Linked DNA regions of Homo sapiens. The protein of the gene in region 1 purifies or fractionates together with the protein of each later gene. This does not show direct contact. Each region holds a gene or a part of one and is shown on either strand. Other genes may lie near its edges.

Region 1 (3,560 bases):
ACCACTGCTGTCAGAGAAAGGCTGGGACCAAGGGGCTTCTCTCAGGTTTTTTTTTTTTTTGAGATGGAGTCTTGCTCCTGTTGCTCAGGCTGGAGTGCAATGCCGCGATCTCGGCTCACTGCAACCTCTGGGTTCAAGTGATTCTCCTGCCTCAGCCTCCCGAGTAGCTGGGGTTACAGGCGTGCACCACCACGCCTGGCTAATTTTTTCATATTTTTAGTAGAGATGGGGTTTCACCATGTTGGTCAGGCTGGTCTCAAACTCCTGACCTCAGATGATCCACCCACCTCGGTCTCCCAAAGTGCTGGGATTACAGGCATGGGCCACTGTGCCTGGACTTCTCTCAGGTCTTCAAAGTCCCCACTCCCTCAAGAGGGATGGCTTACAACAGGGGTGTTCAAGTTTTTGTCATTTCCTGTACCGTAACACCCACACACACACCTGTGTACCTCACATGTAATACTTTAAGATCAACTCACCTTTTTAGAGAAATTGAGATGAAATTCACATAACATAAAATTAACCATTTTAAACTGGACAATTCTGTGGCATTTAGTACATTCATAATGTTGTGCAATCATCACCTCTGTCTAGTTCCAAAACGTTTTAGTCTTTGTTCTGTTTTTGAGACAGGGTCTTATTCTGTCACCCGGGCTGGAGCGCAGTGGCATGATCTTGGCTCACTGCAACTTCTATCTCCCGGGTTCAAGCAATTCTCGTGCCTCAGCCTCCTGAGTAGTGGGATTACAGGTGCGCACCACCACGCCTGGCTAATTTTTATATTTTTAGTAGAGAGGGGGTTTCACCATGTTGGCCAGGCTGGTTTTGAACTCCTGGCCTCAAGTGATCCACCCGTCTCTGCCTCCCAAAGTGCTGGGATTATAGGCATGAGCCACTGTGCCTGGCCAATGTTATTTCTTATATCAGTGTGCACTTAAAAATCATTTTACACCGCATTAGATCTGCAACAGTGATGTCCAATAAAAGTATATTGTGAGGCCAGGTGTGGTGGCTCACGCTGTAATCCCAGCACTTTGGGAGGCTAAGGCAGGTGGGTTGCTTGAGCCCAGGAGTTCAAGACCAGCCTGGGCAACATGGTGAGACCCTGTCTCTACAAAAAATAAGTTGGCTGGGCATGGTGGTGCGCCCCTGTGGTCCCAGCTACACAGGAGGATGAGGCGGGAAGATCACTTGAGTCCAGGAGTTCGAAGCTGCAGTGAGCCATGATCGTTATCACTGCACTGGGTGACAGAGCAAGATCCTGTGTCAAAAAAAAAGTATCTTATGAGACACAACTACAAGCCACACTCCAACTTAAAGTTTCCTAATAGCCACACTACAAAGTAAAAGAAACAAGTAAAATTTTATACAGTAACCCAAAATATTACTTCAACATGTAACCAACATACAAAAATCAATGAGATATTATACATTCTTTTTTTCATAATAAATATTCAGGGCCGGGCGTGGTGACTCACGCGTGCAATCCCAGCACTTTGGGAGGCCAAGGCAGGTGGATCACGAGGTCAGGAGATCGAGACCATCCTGGCTAACACAGTGAAACCCCCTCTCTACTAAAAATACAAAAAAATTAGCTGGGTGTGGTGGTGGGCGCCTGTAGTCCCAGCTACTGGGGAGGCTGAGGCAGGAGAATGGCGTGAGCGCAGGAGGCGGAGCTTGCAGTGAACAGAGATGGCGCCACTGCACTCCAGCCTGGGCGACAGAGCGAGACTCCATCTCAAATAAATAAATAAATACAAATAAATAAAAAATAAATAAATAATAAACAGAATCGGGCTGGGTGCAGTGGCTCACACCTATAATCCCAGCACTTTGGGAGGCTGAGGCAGGTGGATAACCTGAGGTCAGGAGTTCGAGACCAGCCTGGCCAACATGGTGAAACCTGCATCTCTACTAAAAATACAAAAATTAGCAAGGTGTGGTGGGGGGTGCCTATAATCCCAGCTACTCAGGAGGCTGAGGCAGGAGAATCACTTGAACCCGGGAGGCAGAGGTTGTGGTGAGCCAAGATCACGCCACTGTACTCCAGCCTGGGCGACAGAGCGAGACTTCGTCTCAAAAAAAAAAAAAAAAAATCCAATTTGATGATAAGTGCACTTCCTATGGACAGCCCATCTCCTTTCGGACCCAGCCATATTTCAATTTTCAATAGCCACGCGTGGCCAGAGTCTCCTGTGTTGGAGAGCACAGCTCTGTGAGATCCTCTCCAGCTCTAAGATGCTAGGATTCCTTTTCTTTTTCTATCTCCTTCCTTTGCCTTAGCAATCTCTAAATCTGCAGTTCTCAGCCTTTCCTTCTGTCTCAACACACCCAGGATGAGGTTCAGTGGCTTCCTGCTCCCCGGGGCTCATGGAGACCTCGGTCTGAGCTCTCGGTGAGAAAGGCCCTAGGCTGCACGCACTTCTCAGAGCGCTGCCCGGACTCCACCCCATGAAGCACAGCCAATTACAACCACGAAGAATGTTATTCTAGAGCAACCTTGAACCTGGCTAGTTTAGTTGATTTTTAAATTTTTATTTATTTATTTTTTTAAATTTTTATTTTTTGAGACAGAGTCTCTCTCTGTCGCCCAAGCTAGAGTGCAGAAGAGCGATCTCAGCTCACTGCAACCTCCACTTCCCGGGTTCAAGCAATTCTCCTACCTCAGCCTCCCAAGTAGCTGGGATTACAGACAAGCGCCACCCTAACCCTAATTTTTGTATTTTTAGTGGAGACGGGGTTTCTCCATGTTGGCCAGGCTGGTCTTGAACTCCTGGCCTCAGATGATCCGACTGCCTCAGCCTCCCAAAGTGTTAGGATTACAGCATGAGCCACCGCGCCAGGATGAACCTGTCTAGTTTAGTTTAAAATACACTGTAGCAAACATCCGTTGTTTTCTTCCCAGCATCTGCTCCCAGCTTTTCTGGTAACAGAACCCCAAATGTCCTTTGGAAGCCATATCTCCCCAATGCTTGCCTATGTCACTTGGGTGGGTCTGACTCTAGCCCCAGCTGCAGAGGTGGGCATGTGACCCAGGCCCAAGCTGATAAGCAAAACCCATTCCCCAGCCACAGAGATGGGTTGAGAGATATGGCCATTGATACGATGATGGACAGGTCTAGAATCTCCAGGGACAGCTGGAAAGGGAGACTCAGACTTGGGGGGCTGTAAGTGCAGCGCTGCCTCCCGGGCTATGCTGTGGGTCCTGCGAGTGAAGCTGGCACGGCGGGATGCAGAGCCAGGAAGGGAGACTAGGGTGTTGTCCTTTGTCTCTCACTCTGTCGCCCAGGCAGGAGTGCAGTGGCCTCTGTCGCCCAGGAGGGAGTGCAGTGGCACCATCTCAGCTCAGCAACCTCCTCCTCCCAGGTTCAAGAGATTCTTCTGCCTCAGCCTGGCACGAGATTCTCCTGGCCACGCTGGATCTTTTTGGTCAGCCGGACAATACACTGCCCCCCCGCTGTGCACGCATGTGTATGTGTGTATGTGTTTGTGCACATGTGCTTAAGGCACTGAGAACTGTTTCCTGTCAGTTATTTGCAACTGACAGAGTCCTAACATAC
Region 2 (3,560 bases), on another chromosome or scaffold:
CTGGAATGCAGTGGCATGATCTTGATTCACTGCAGCCTCAGCCTCCCGAGTAGCTGGCTCATTCATTTTTAACAACCCTGTGAGTTAGGTAATAGTATTCTTGTTTCATTTTTTTATATGCAGAAACTGAGACCCAGAGAGGTCAGAAGTTAAATATCTTTCCCAAGACCCACATTAGGTGGTAAAGGAAGCATCCAGGCCTAGGCATTCTGAATCCAGAGGACATGCTTTTAACCCCTCTGCTACAGAAAGCTTATATTTAAAATAAGAAGGTGAATTAAGAAGCTATTTCTTAAGTGGATAATTAGCACAGAAAAGAAGAAAAAATATCTATAGATACTGATTAATGCTATTACTTAGTATTAGTTTTTATTTTTAGTTGAAGACCCTCATGTGAAGATGAAAGGAAGAATAGCATGCTGTTGTGGCAGGCAGCAAAGCAGGAGTGGGCTGGTTTTCCCAGGGTACTCAGCATTTACTGAGATAATAAACATGTAATGCTGTTTAATATTGGAGGTTTTGACTTTCTGGACATCTTGACTGTCACACAATACTAAAAGACTTCTGAATGCTCTTAATTTTACTTATCACTGCCACTAACCATCAGTAGAGACATTTATTTCTAGGGAACGGGGTGTAAACTCATAACAGTTAATAATAATATGCACAGTGCCCTACTGTCACTGCTAGTGAAAAATCAAAAGGGCAGTATACCAGACAGCCCACGGTAAAAGCGTGTGTGTGTCTAACTTTTTTTGCACTAAAAGATGTGATTTTTGCTATTTATGTTTTGGCTGAAGTACAAAAGTTAGGCTTTATAAACCGGACATGTGTCAGTGTGTGAATGTGTGAGGTTAGCCTTGATTGCTCTGCATAAGTCTAAGTAGGGCTCTGAAGTATGCAAGTGGATTTTAGTAAATGATCCAGTTGAGAATCTATTTCTTCTTGTGGTACCTTTAAGAGACTTTGTTAATTATGTATCTTTCTAAATATATACAATGAAAACAGAAAAATATAAATGACATGTAACTTTTATAATGAGTGTATTGCTCCTAGAAGCCATTAATAATAATTTACAAATATGACCTAACAATTTATCAAACCAATTTTTATTTGCACTTAATGGTTAATTTAGTGATTACTCCCTCCCTGAGATAATTGTTTTTAGTCACGTAATTTATTTCCCTATGTCTTCTCCCCTGGTATTTTTACTATCCCCAAAAGGAGTTGATAGGAGCAGAACAGATGTGAGAATGTTGGGTTTTACAAACTACCTCAAAATAATAGTGGGTTAAGACAATGATTTGTTATTTCTTTCTTTCTTTTTCTTTTTCTTTTTTTCTTTTGAGACAGTCTTGCTCTGTCACCAGGCTGGAGTGTAGTGGCGTGATGTCGGCTCACTGCAACCTCCGCCTCCTGGGTTCAAGCGATTCTCCTGCCTCAGCCTCTCAAGTAGCTGGGACTACAGGCATGTGCCACCATGCCCAGCTAATTTTTTGTATTTTAGTAGAGATGGGGTTTCACCATGTTGGCCAGGCTGGTCTCAAACTCCCTACCTTGGGTGATCCGCCCATCTCACCTCCCAAAGTGCTGGGATTACAGGTGTGAGCCACTGCGCCCAGCCTGTTATTTCTTATAATTATATAGGTCATCTGGTCTCACGTGTTCCTGCTCAAATGGTATAGGCTGGGGTCACAACAGTGACTACATTCTGCCAGACCACAACTGGGACTGGAATGTCCTTGAAAGTGTCATCTTCATGTCTGGCACTTCACCTGGGGTGACCAGGATAGCCAAGGGTTGGCTGGACCTCTCTCCATATAGATCACTTGGCATTTGGTAGTCTTAGCTTGAGCTTCTTTACATGGTAGCTAGATCCCGTGAAAGTGGAAGCTGCCAGGTCTCTTAAGACCAGGGCCCAGAACTGGCACACAGTCATTTCCACAACATTCTATTGTCAAAACAAGTTACAAAGCCAGCCCAGATTCAAGGGGAGGAAAAACAGACTCCACCTCTTTCTCTCTCTCTCTCTCTCTTTTTTTTTAATAATGGAGACAGGGTCTCACTGTGTTACCCAGGCTGGTCTCGAATTCCTGGGCTCAGGCAGTCCTTCTGCCTCAGCCTCCCAAAGTGTTAGGATTACAGGTGTAAACCAGCATGTTTGGCCCTGACTCCACCTCTTGATAGGATAAATTGTTAGTGTCTGTCTTTGCAGACAGTCTACAAAAAATTCAAATTCAAGTCTTACCTCCTATACTCACCAAACCTTCAGAGTTTTAGTCAAACCAATAATTACCAAAGTATTTTGTTAAAGGATCCTTGTAGTTCCTACTCAGGATCAAGGGCAAAGAGATTGTGTGCATAAATATAATTCTATACCAGTTAAGAAATCCTACCCCTTTGCCTCAGATCTCTTTTGTTGTTAGTCCTCTGCATGAAGCATTCTTACTAAGCATTTCCTTTGTGGTGCTTTGCATTTACAAGGCATGTTACATTCTACTTAAGTCATAAGAACCTGATTTGACCATTAAATTAGAAACACAAGAAGTGAAACTTATGTTTACTTTTACCATAACTTTCACTTTTAGTTGCTATGAGCAGAGGTTGGTATTTATTTCTTCTCTATGACCTCAGAGGTAGTATTGTGAGCTTGTCACTTAATCAGAGGGTGATTCAAGGGGACACTTCTAATAAGGCTTGGAATCTCATTGGTGGCTTGTAGGACCCTCTAGTAAGGTAGTAAGCGTTAAGGCCAGGTGTTCTCATGTTCCTTGGCAGCCACATACATTGAGATTTATCACATGATCTGTAGACCCCCACACCAACATGCTTTTCTGTAAATGTTCCTCCACCATCAGCCAGATTTTTTTTTAAGTACAATTTCCATTGTATTTTTCTCCAGAGAATGGTCTGTCTTCAGTCTTTAAGGACTCAGCTCCTTACACGGGCTTTGGTGGGGGTCGTGGGGCAGCACCCACAGGTCTAAATCGGGGTAGGGGTGTTCGGTCCTCGTGGGCTTCATGAGATTGATTCCTGACTACTTTGCTGTGAATTGCACAATTCACACAGTAATGTAGCTTCACAAACAGCTTGGGAAGCACATAGGCATTGAAGACGCTGCTTCAGAAATGTCCCTGACTGCTGTGGCCTCCACTATATTTCGAATGATGAATTTCTTAATGGCCTTGTCCTTAGGCACGCATCAGGCACAGTTCATGCAGCGAATGGCTGCACGTAACTGTGGCCCTTTTTGACATGACTTTTGTTCCTTCTTTTCTTTGTCATCTTGGAGGCATGGACCGGAGAGGAGATTCTTGAAAGAAGACTTTACATTAAGACCTCACTTTTTTTCTGTGGAATCTATATCTCTTCTCCCAAAACAACTTCATAGTCTTACGTTTGCCCTTATACAATATTTATCAAATGAGTAGGATGAGTGTGTTTGTGTGTGTGTGTGTGTAGAATGAAAGTGAATTAGCCGGCTGGGCGTGGTGGCTCACACCTGTAATCACAGCACATTGGGGGGCTGAGGTGGGCAGATCACTTGAGGTCAGGAGTTC
Region 3 (3,560 bases), 2.4 Mb from region 1:
TAGTAGATATGGGGTTTCACCATGTTGGCCAGGCTGGTCTCGAACTCCTGACCTCAGATGATCTACCTGCCTCAGCCTCCCAAAGTGCTGGGATTATAGGCGTGAGCTACTACGCCCGGCCTTATGTTACATATATTTTAACTAAAAAAAGCTTTCATGAAGCTTTTCTAAATTAAATAATGGAGAGAGAGATTGTAATAAATTGAGGTCAAATGTGCTCAATTAAAATGAAAACAAATGACAGGCCGGCCACAGTGGCTCATGCCTGTAATCCTAGCACTTTGGGAAGTGGAAAGATTGCTTCAGGCTAGGAGTTCAAGACTGCAGTAAGCTATGATCACTGTACTACACTACAGCCTGGGCAACAGAGTGAATGTGTCTCTATTTTAAAATATATATAATATTTATATATAAATACACGTATTTTATACATACATACTTTATATGTAAATATATAAATAATATTTTAAAAATATTTGTGTATATATATTATGTGTGTGTATATATATGCATAAATAAAACATACATATACACATAAATAAAGCAAAAACCAGACAAACCCCAATTCCAATTCAAGCCAATTTTGTATAAATATAAATTACACTTTTTTTTTTTTTTTTTTTACTGAGACAGGGTCTCACCATCGCCCAGGCTGGAATGCAGTAGTGTGATCATAACTTACTGCAACCTCAAATTCCTGGGCTCACGTGATACTCCTGCCTCAGCTTCCTGGGCAGCTGGAACTACAGGCAAGCACCACCACGCCCAGCTAATTTTTCTAATTTTTTGTAGAGACAGGGTTTCACTATGTTGCCCAGGCTGGTCTTGAACTCAAGGCCTCAAGTGATCCTCCCACCCTGGCCTCTCAAATTGCTAGGATTACAGGTATAAGGCATCACACCTGACCAAATTACATTGTCTTCATTTATGTAGATCAATCTAAAAAAGATTTGACTGAAACTGGACTGCCCATTGCTATGACTTACGGGAAATGGGCAACAACTCAATACCATGATGAAGTCCTGAAGTGAAGCAGGATTAGAAGGAACCATAATCAACACTGCTGTGGTGTCCTAGGTCAGCAAGACACCTCCAAGTCTTGAGCAGGGAACTGGGGAGAACTGATGCTCTTACCTTGTTAATAATTCCTCCGTTTTCAACAACTCCTTCAGCACCAACTATGACAAGATCTGCTTTCTCCATGATGTAGCTAAGGGGAAAAAAAGCTTTTCATGCTTTATTTTCTTGGCTCTAACGAGTAGCATCATCATCTGCAAAGATCAATATTCCATTTCTATCAAGGTAAGTTCCTCCCATAACTACCTGTTTTTTTTAAAGCGCACTTAACACGCGATAGACCCCTGGCATTGTTACCAGGGGTGTTTTCTGGTCATGACCCTACAATGAGACATACACTTCACACTGCCGCCCGGCGCATGCACACGTACATATGTGTGTAAGTGAAGCAAGAATGTCCTGACACAGCAGTCTTCCTTCCAAGTGTGGTATCCTCTACTTTCTTTTCTACTTCAGCACAAACCAAACAAAATTTTAAAATCTGATGAGATCTGAAGTTGGACAAAAGTGTTATGCAGTTTTAAAAATCTTTCTTTTTTTTTTTGAGACCAGATCTCACTCTGTTGCCCAGGCTAGAGTGCAGTGGCATGATCTCAGCCCAAACCTCTACCTCTTAGGCTCAAGCGATCCTCCCATTTCAGCCTCCCAGGTAGCTGGGACCACAGCATATGCCACCATGCCCTAGAGATGGGGTTTCGCCATATTGCCCAGGCTGGTCTCCAACTCCTGAACTCTAGCGATCCACCTGCCTCAGGTATGAGCCACTGTGCCCAACCTTAAGAATCTTTCTGGTAGGATGAAGGCCAATTTAGTCTTTAAAATGAGCAATTAGTAGAATTCCTCAAAATCCTTACTTTTGAACACATTCCTAATTTCCTTAATCATCTATCTTGTTTTCATTCCAAGAGATCACTACTCTTGTTTTTTCTTGGGAAATACACTGACAATCCCAGGAACATGTGACTTGGCTTTGCGACACAAGCTGCATCTTCTAGGTGAGACAAAGCATCCCAGTATGCCACTGAGGACAGCCAGGTCTTCACAGAAATACAGAGCCCTGATTACCCTCTGCTGATCCCAACTGACCTTTGTACTTTGCTCTTAAAATGCATTTGCACTGGCTGGGCGTGGTGGCTCACGCCTGTAATCCCAGCACTTTGGGAGGCCAAGGCGGGCAGATCACCTGAGTTCAGGAGTTCGAGACCAGCCTGGCCAACATGGTGAAACCCCATCTCTACTAAAAATATAAAAGAATTAACGTGGCATGGTGGCATGCGCCGGTAATCCCAGCTACTTAGGAGGCTGAGGCAGGAGAATCGCTTGAACCTGGGAGGTGGAGATTGCAGTGAACCAAGATCATGCCATTGCACTCCAGCCTGGGCAACAGGGCAAGACTCCATCTCAAAAAAACAAAAAACAAACAAACAAAAACAACAACAACAACAAACTCAACACTTACAGCCATAAAGCTATAGACACAACTCCCACTCTCCCCAACATCCTACAGCTCTGTCTTCTTTGTATGCTATCACAACCTCATAACAAGCTTGCTGGTTTAGGGCAGCTATTAATTAAGAAGTAGGACGCTACCTGGTGTGGCTTTATGAACGGGACTCAAACTTTCAATCTGAAAACTTGCTGTAAGCCAGCATGGGGTGGGGGAGGTGATTATGGCTGGGGAAGATGGGCACTCACCCGACAGCAGCATCTAGCACCACAGTGACAGGGACGTTGAGGTGGCAGAGGGCTTTGGCCATTTTCTTACTGAAGATGACATTTTGAGAACGTTAGAGAAAGTACAAGACAGTACCACAGTGATGTATGTCACCTAATGTGGACAGTGGATGTTTGCTTGAAACTCACATTAATACTAATGGGTTAAGGGGCAGATCCCAATACTTTGGACTAAGGAAACAAGAATTTGAGTTCTTTAGAAAGAAGTATTTTTGGAAAACTATACTCTTAGACTCTGGGTAAGAGATGTAAATTCAGGAAAAAAGGAGGAAGTTTTGCTTTGATTATCGTCTAGAGAGAGGGAGATATAAGTTACCTATTCCTTGATAAAAATCTTCATCAATACAATCTCTGCTCTTCCACGGAGTTAACTACTTAAGTGAAACCCCTAGATCATATACTGCGGCCTGCTGCAAATTCAGTGATTTTTCTTCCAAAGGCAGGAAAAGGTACAATGAAAGGCAGTGCTGACTGCTGGCAAGCTGGGGGCACATTCTGGTTCTGATCCTGTTGGACTGTAATCCGCAGTTTGCTCTGTAAAATTATGGCTGGGCACATAACTGAACAGAAAGGTACTTGCCCTGACAAATCAGGCTGTGACTCTGTGACGTATACACTAAATCGCTTCTTGGCCGCCACGGCTGCTTCCAGGACTCTCAGGACCACTCTGGAGTAGGCGTGAGTCAATATTGTCTGTGGACCGAGAAAGCTTTGTCAAAGGGGCAGGCTCCTTGCTGCTCACTCACACC
Region 4 (3,560 bases), on another chromosome or scaffold:
TTAGAGGTGTGAGCCACCACGTGTGGCCGGATGGGGAGTATTTTATATTTTAGGCTGGGTGGCAGGATTTGTGAGTATTCATTTTACTTTTCTATATCTTTTATTATTCTCTGGATTTTTTTTCTGGGTCTAAAATTTGTTATTGCATAAACAATTAGAACTAAAAGAAAAAAAAGCCTTCAGCTAGGGGGTCGGTTGGAAACGGGAGATGAGGCCAGGAGCCCAGTGAGGCAGCCAGGCAGGGACTCTGGCAGGAGCAGGCAGGGTCATGGGGAGGGAGACAGATCCTGGCTGCCCCAATAGACAGTGAGGGTGTGAATGGGATCCCAGCATTCCTTTCACCATTCCTTGCTTCCAGGTGACCCTGCTGGACTTTGGTGCAAGCCGGGAGTTTGGGACAGAGTTCACAGACCATTACATCGAGGTGAGTCTCCCCCAGACCCCAGGGCCTCTGAAAGGCTGAGGCTCAAGCCATATACTGAGGCAGAGGAGTAAGAAGGCGAAATGCAGTTTCTGGAATTAAGAAATAATAAATAATAGTAATACTCGTAGCAACTAGCACACACCAAGCACTTAATATGTCAGGCTCCATCTTTAGTGCTTACGTATAGGAACCGATATAAACCACACAGCAACACAATGCGAAAAGGACCGTTTTTAGGCCCGTTTTAGGCCAGATGAAGTAACTGGGTCCTGGAGGGGTTAAGTCACGTGCCCAAGATCACAGCAGACTTGGGATTCAAATTCAGGTGGTCCAGGTCCAGAGCCCAAGCTTCCAACCACTGCCCAGCTCCCTCCTAAGAGAAAGGCCCACAGTGACCATCTTGTCACCTCTCCAGACCCCATGCTGTCCAGGGCCCTGGTGTCCAGCCCAGGTGTGTGTCCCTGGGGGCAACTCTGTCTACAGGAGGTGTTTCCTCACGTACTTGGCTCGTCTCTCCCACCCACTGGGGTCAGTTTGTCTTAGAGGCTGCAGAGAATACCATTTCATTCGTTGTTGAGATTGGACATTTGCCCTGGGTCCTCTAATCATGTAGCCATCAATCTAAACGTTTTCTTTTCCTTTTTTTTCTTTTCTTTTTTTTTTTTTTAATTGAGACAGAGTCTTGCTCTGTCGCCCAGGCTGGAGTGCAGTGGCTCGATCTTGGCTCACCACAACCTCCACCTCCTGGGTTCAAGCGATTCTCCTGCCTCAGCTTCTCGAGTAGCTGGGATTACAGGCATGTGCCACCACGCCCGGCTAATTTTTGTATTTTTAGTAGAGATGGGGTTTCACCATGTTGCCCAGGCTGGTCTCGAACTGCTGACCTCAGGTGATCCTCCTGCCTTGGCCTCCCAAAGTGCTGGGATTACAGGCATGAGCCCTCCTGCCCAGCCAATCTAAATGTTTTCTGACCCCTCCTCTGTGCCCAGCTCTATTCTAGGCAAAGCTGGAGACACAGCAGTGACCTGGGCCCAGCCTAGGCCCCTCCTCACAGAACTCATAGTCAGTGAGGCGACAGTGAGGACCTAGCATGGACAGGGCTGGGATGGGGGAAGCGCAGGGCACTGTGAGCCCAGAGGAGGAGCCTGAGCCAGCCTGGGGAGCCAAGGAGGGCTTCCCGGAGGAGGGAGTGTCAGCATTGAGACCTGAGGGATGAGGGGGGCCAACTGGGAAAAGGCTCGGAGGGTATTTCAGATAGACAACATGTGCCAAGACGAGGCAGTGATAAGGGACAGTCCCATTAGAGCAGCATTTCTCAGACTTGGATGTGCATGTGAAGCCTGGTGATCCTGTGCAAGTGCAGATTCTGGTCTGGAGGTGGGTGTAAGATGCTATGTTCTGACACGCACCCATGTGAGGCCAGGGCTACCCGTATGGGGACCACACTGGTAGTAGTAAGGCCCTAGAGCACCCAAAGGAAGCTCCCATTCTGAGTGGGAGGGCAGGTCGGGGGGCAGCACAGTGACGAGGCTGCAGCAAATCACTGCGGATTTTAGAGGCTGCGCTCTACAGCTCGTACTGTATCCAGGTGCCCTGCGGAGCCGTGGAAAAGATTTGAGCAGGGAAGGGATGCAGTCAGAATTTGAAAACTCCCTCTGAATAAGAAGTGGTCTCTAAGCCTGGGGGTGGGAGCTCAGGGCAGCTGTGGAGAGGGGCAGAGGGGTGGCTGGGAGATGCCCAGCTGGCAGTCCATGGGAGCAGACGGGCTAGAAGTTGGGGACAGAGGTGTCTAGGGGTCTGGTCTGGGGACTGGTGGGGCCACCTCTGAGACAGGAACAGGAAGAGGAGGTGATAACCCCTTACACACAGGCCCCTTGGGGCCCTCTCTGCCGGCCACTGAGGCACAAAGCTGAGACCCTTCTTCTCCCCACTGACACCCTCCCCTCCCACCCAGGCCTGCAGCCTTTGCCACTTTATAAAAGCCCTGGCTTCTGAGGACCACAGGCCTGACAGATGGCCAGACATGCTCGGGCAGGGGGAGCAGAGAGGGAATGGAATTAATCCCGAATCCCCCTCCTCACAAAAAAGGGCAACCCAGTAGTGAGTGGTGTGACCCGGTTCCACTCCCTACTCCGGGTCTGCTTCCCCTTCTGTGAAATAGGGACCCCCGTGCCCACCTCTTAATAATGGTAGATTATAGTATTTACGGTGCTTCCTGCATGAGACACAGCGCCAGGCAGGCCACAGGCATCACCTTCTTTATCCTCCCAACAGCCCCATGAGGAAGGCACTTTTGGCATCCCCACTTCACAGATGAGAAAGTGGAGGCCCAACAGGCCGGCAGGTGGCAGAGCTGGGACGGAACCCTAGCCAGCTGGCCCCAGCTGGGCATCTCTCCATGCCCACAACTCCTGCCCTGTGTGTGTGAGCTCATGGCTGGAGAGCTGCTCTGCTCCACACGCTCATTTGCTAAAGCAAGGTTCACCCAGGGCCTCCTCAGCACCAGACCCTGTGCCCCGTGCGACTAAACCCAACTGGGATCCTTGCTCTCACGGGGCTCAAAGTCCAGTGTGGGAGACAGAGAGATGGCCCCTGGCAACTTTGGATGCAGTTCTGGGTCACGCTCATACCCGTCCAGTTGAGTGTTTGGACTCACCAGCAGCCCTGACACTTGTTTCTTGCACTGTTTCACTGTGGCAGTTCCCGGGCAGGCCCCACATTGCCCTCTAGGTGGGCAGGATCCCTAACCACCTCCACTCCCAGGCTCTGGAAGAGTCTTTAAGGGAGTCACAGACAGGCAAAGTTGGGAGCAGGAAGCTTCCAGGTGAGGGAGGGCCCAGGCAGATGAGAATGGAGGTGGGTACATGGGAGGCCCAGGCTTCCAGCTCCTCTTCTCCAGAGCCCCCTTGAGCCCCGGCCTTTGTCCCTCTAACTCCCACCCGTCTCCCCAGGTGGTGAAGGCTGCAGCTGATGGAGACAGAGACTGTGTCCTGCAGAAGTCCAGGGACCTCAAATTCCTCACAGGCTTTGAAACCAAGGTGGGGAGACACTGGGGGAGAAAGGGGCTGGTGTCTGTTGGTGGGGTGCAGTGGGGGGCTGCTTATCTCCACTGAGGAACTCGAGTAGGTGATGGGGC

The links.
Region 2: the proteins of P2RX4 (region 1) and FAM20B purify together in Homo sapiens (affinity purification with mass spectrometry; 4 studies listed by BioGRID and IntAct, with this or other methods). This does not show direct contact.
Region 3: the proteins of P2RX4 (region 1) and EIF2B1 purify together in Homo sapiens (affinity purification with mass spectrometry; 3 studies listed by BioGRID and IntAct, with this or other methods). This does not show direct contact.
Region 4: the proteins of P2RX4 (region 1) and COQ8B purify together in Homo sapiens (affinity purification with mass spectrometry; 3 studies listed by BioGRID and IntAct, with this or other methods). This does not show direct contact.

What each region holds. Positions count from the first base shown.
Region 1 is NC_000012.12:121,223,609-121,227,168, reverse strand, and holds part of P2RX4 (P2X purinoceptor 4), read right to left. Parts: intron 1-3,560. UniProt on the Homo sapiens protein: ATP-gated nonselective transmembrane cation channel permeable to potassium, sodium and calcium. CTP, but not GTP or UTP, functions as a weak affinity agonist for P2RX4.
Region 2 is NC_000001.11:179,032,368-179,035,927, forward strand, and holds part of FAM20B (glycosaminoglycan xylosylkinase), read left to right. Parts: intron 1-2,870; exon of another isoform or gene 2,871-3,311; intron 3,312-3,560. UniProt on the Homo sapiens protein: Responsible for the 2-O-phosphorylation of xylose in the glycosaminoglycan-protein linkage region of proteoglycans thereby regulating the amount of mature GAG chains.
Region 3 is NC_000012.12:123,623,653-123,627,212, forward strand, and holds part of EIF2B1 (translation initiation factor eIF2B subunit alpha), read right to left. Parts: intron 3,505-3,560; coding exon 3,392-3,504; intron 2,842-3,391; coding exon 2,773-2,841; intron 1,211-2,772; coding exon 1,135-1,210; intron 1-1,134.
Region 4 is NC_000019.10:40,692,853-40,696,412, reverse strand, and holds part of COQ8B (atypical kinase COQ8B, mitochondrial), read left to right. Parts: intron 1-358; coding exon 359-424; intron 425-3,375; coding exon 3,376-3,462; intron 3,463-3,560.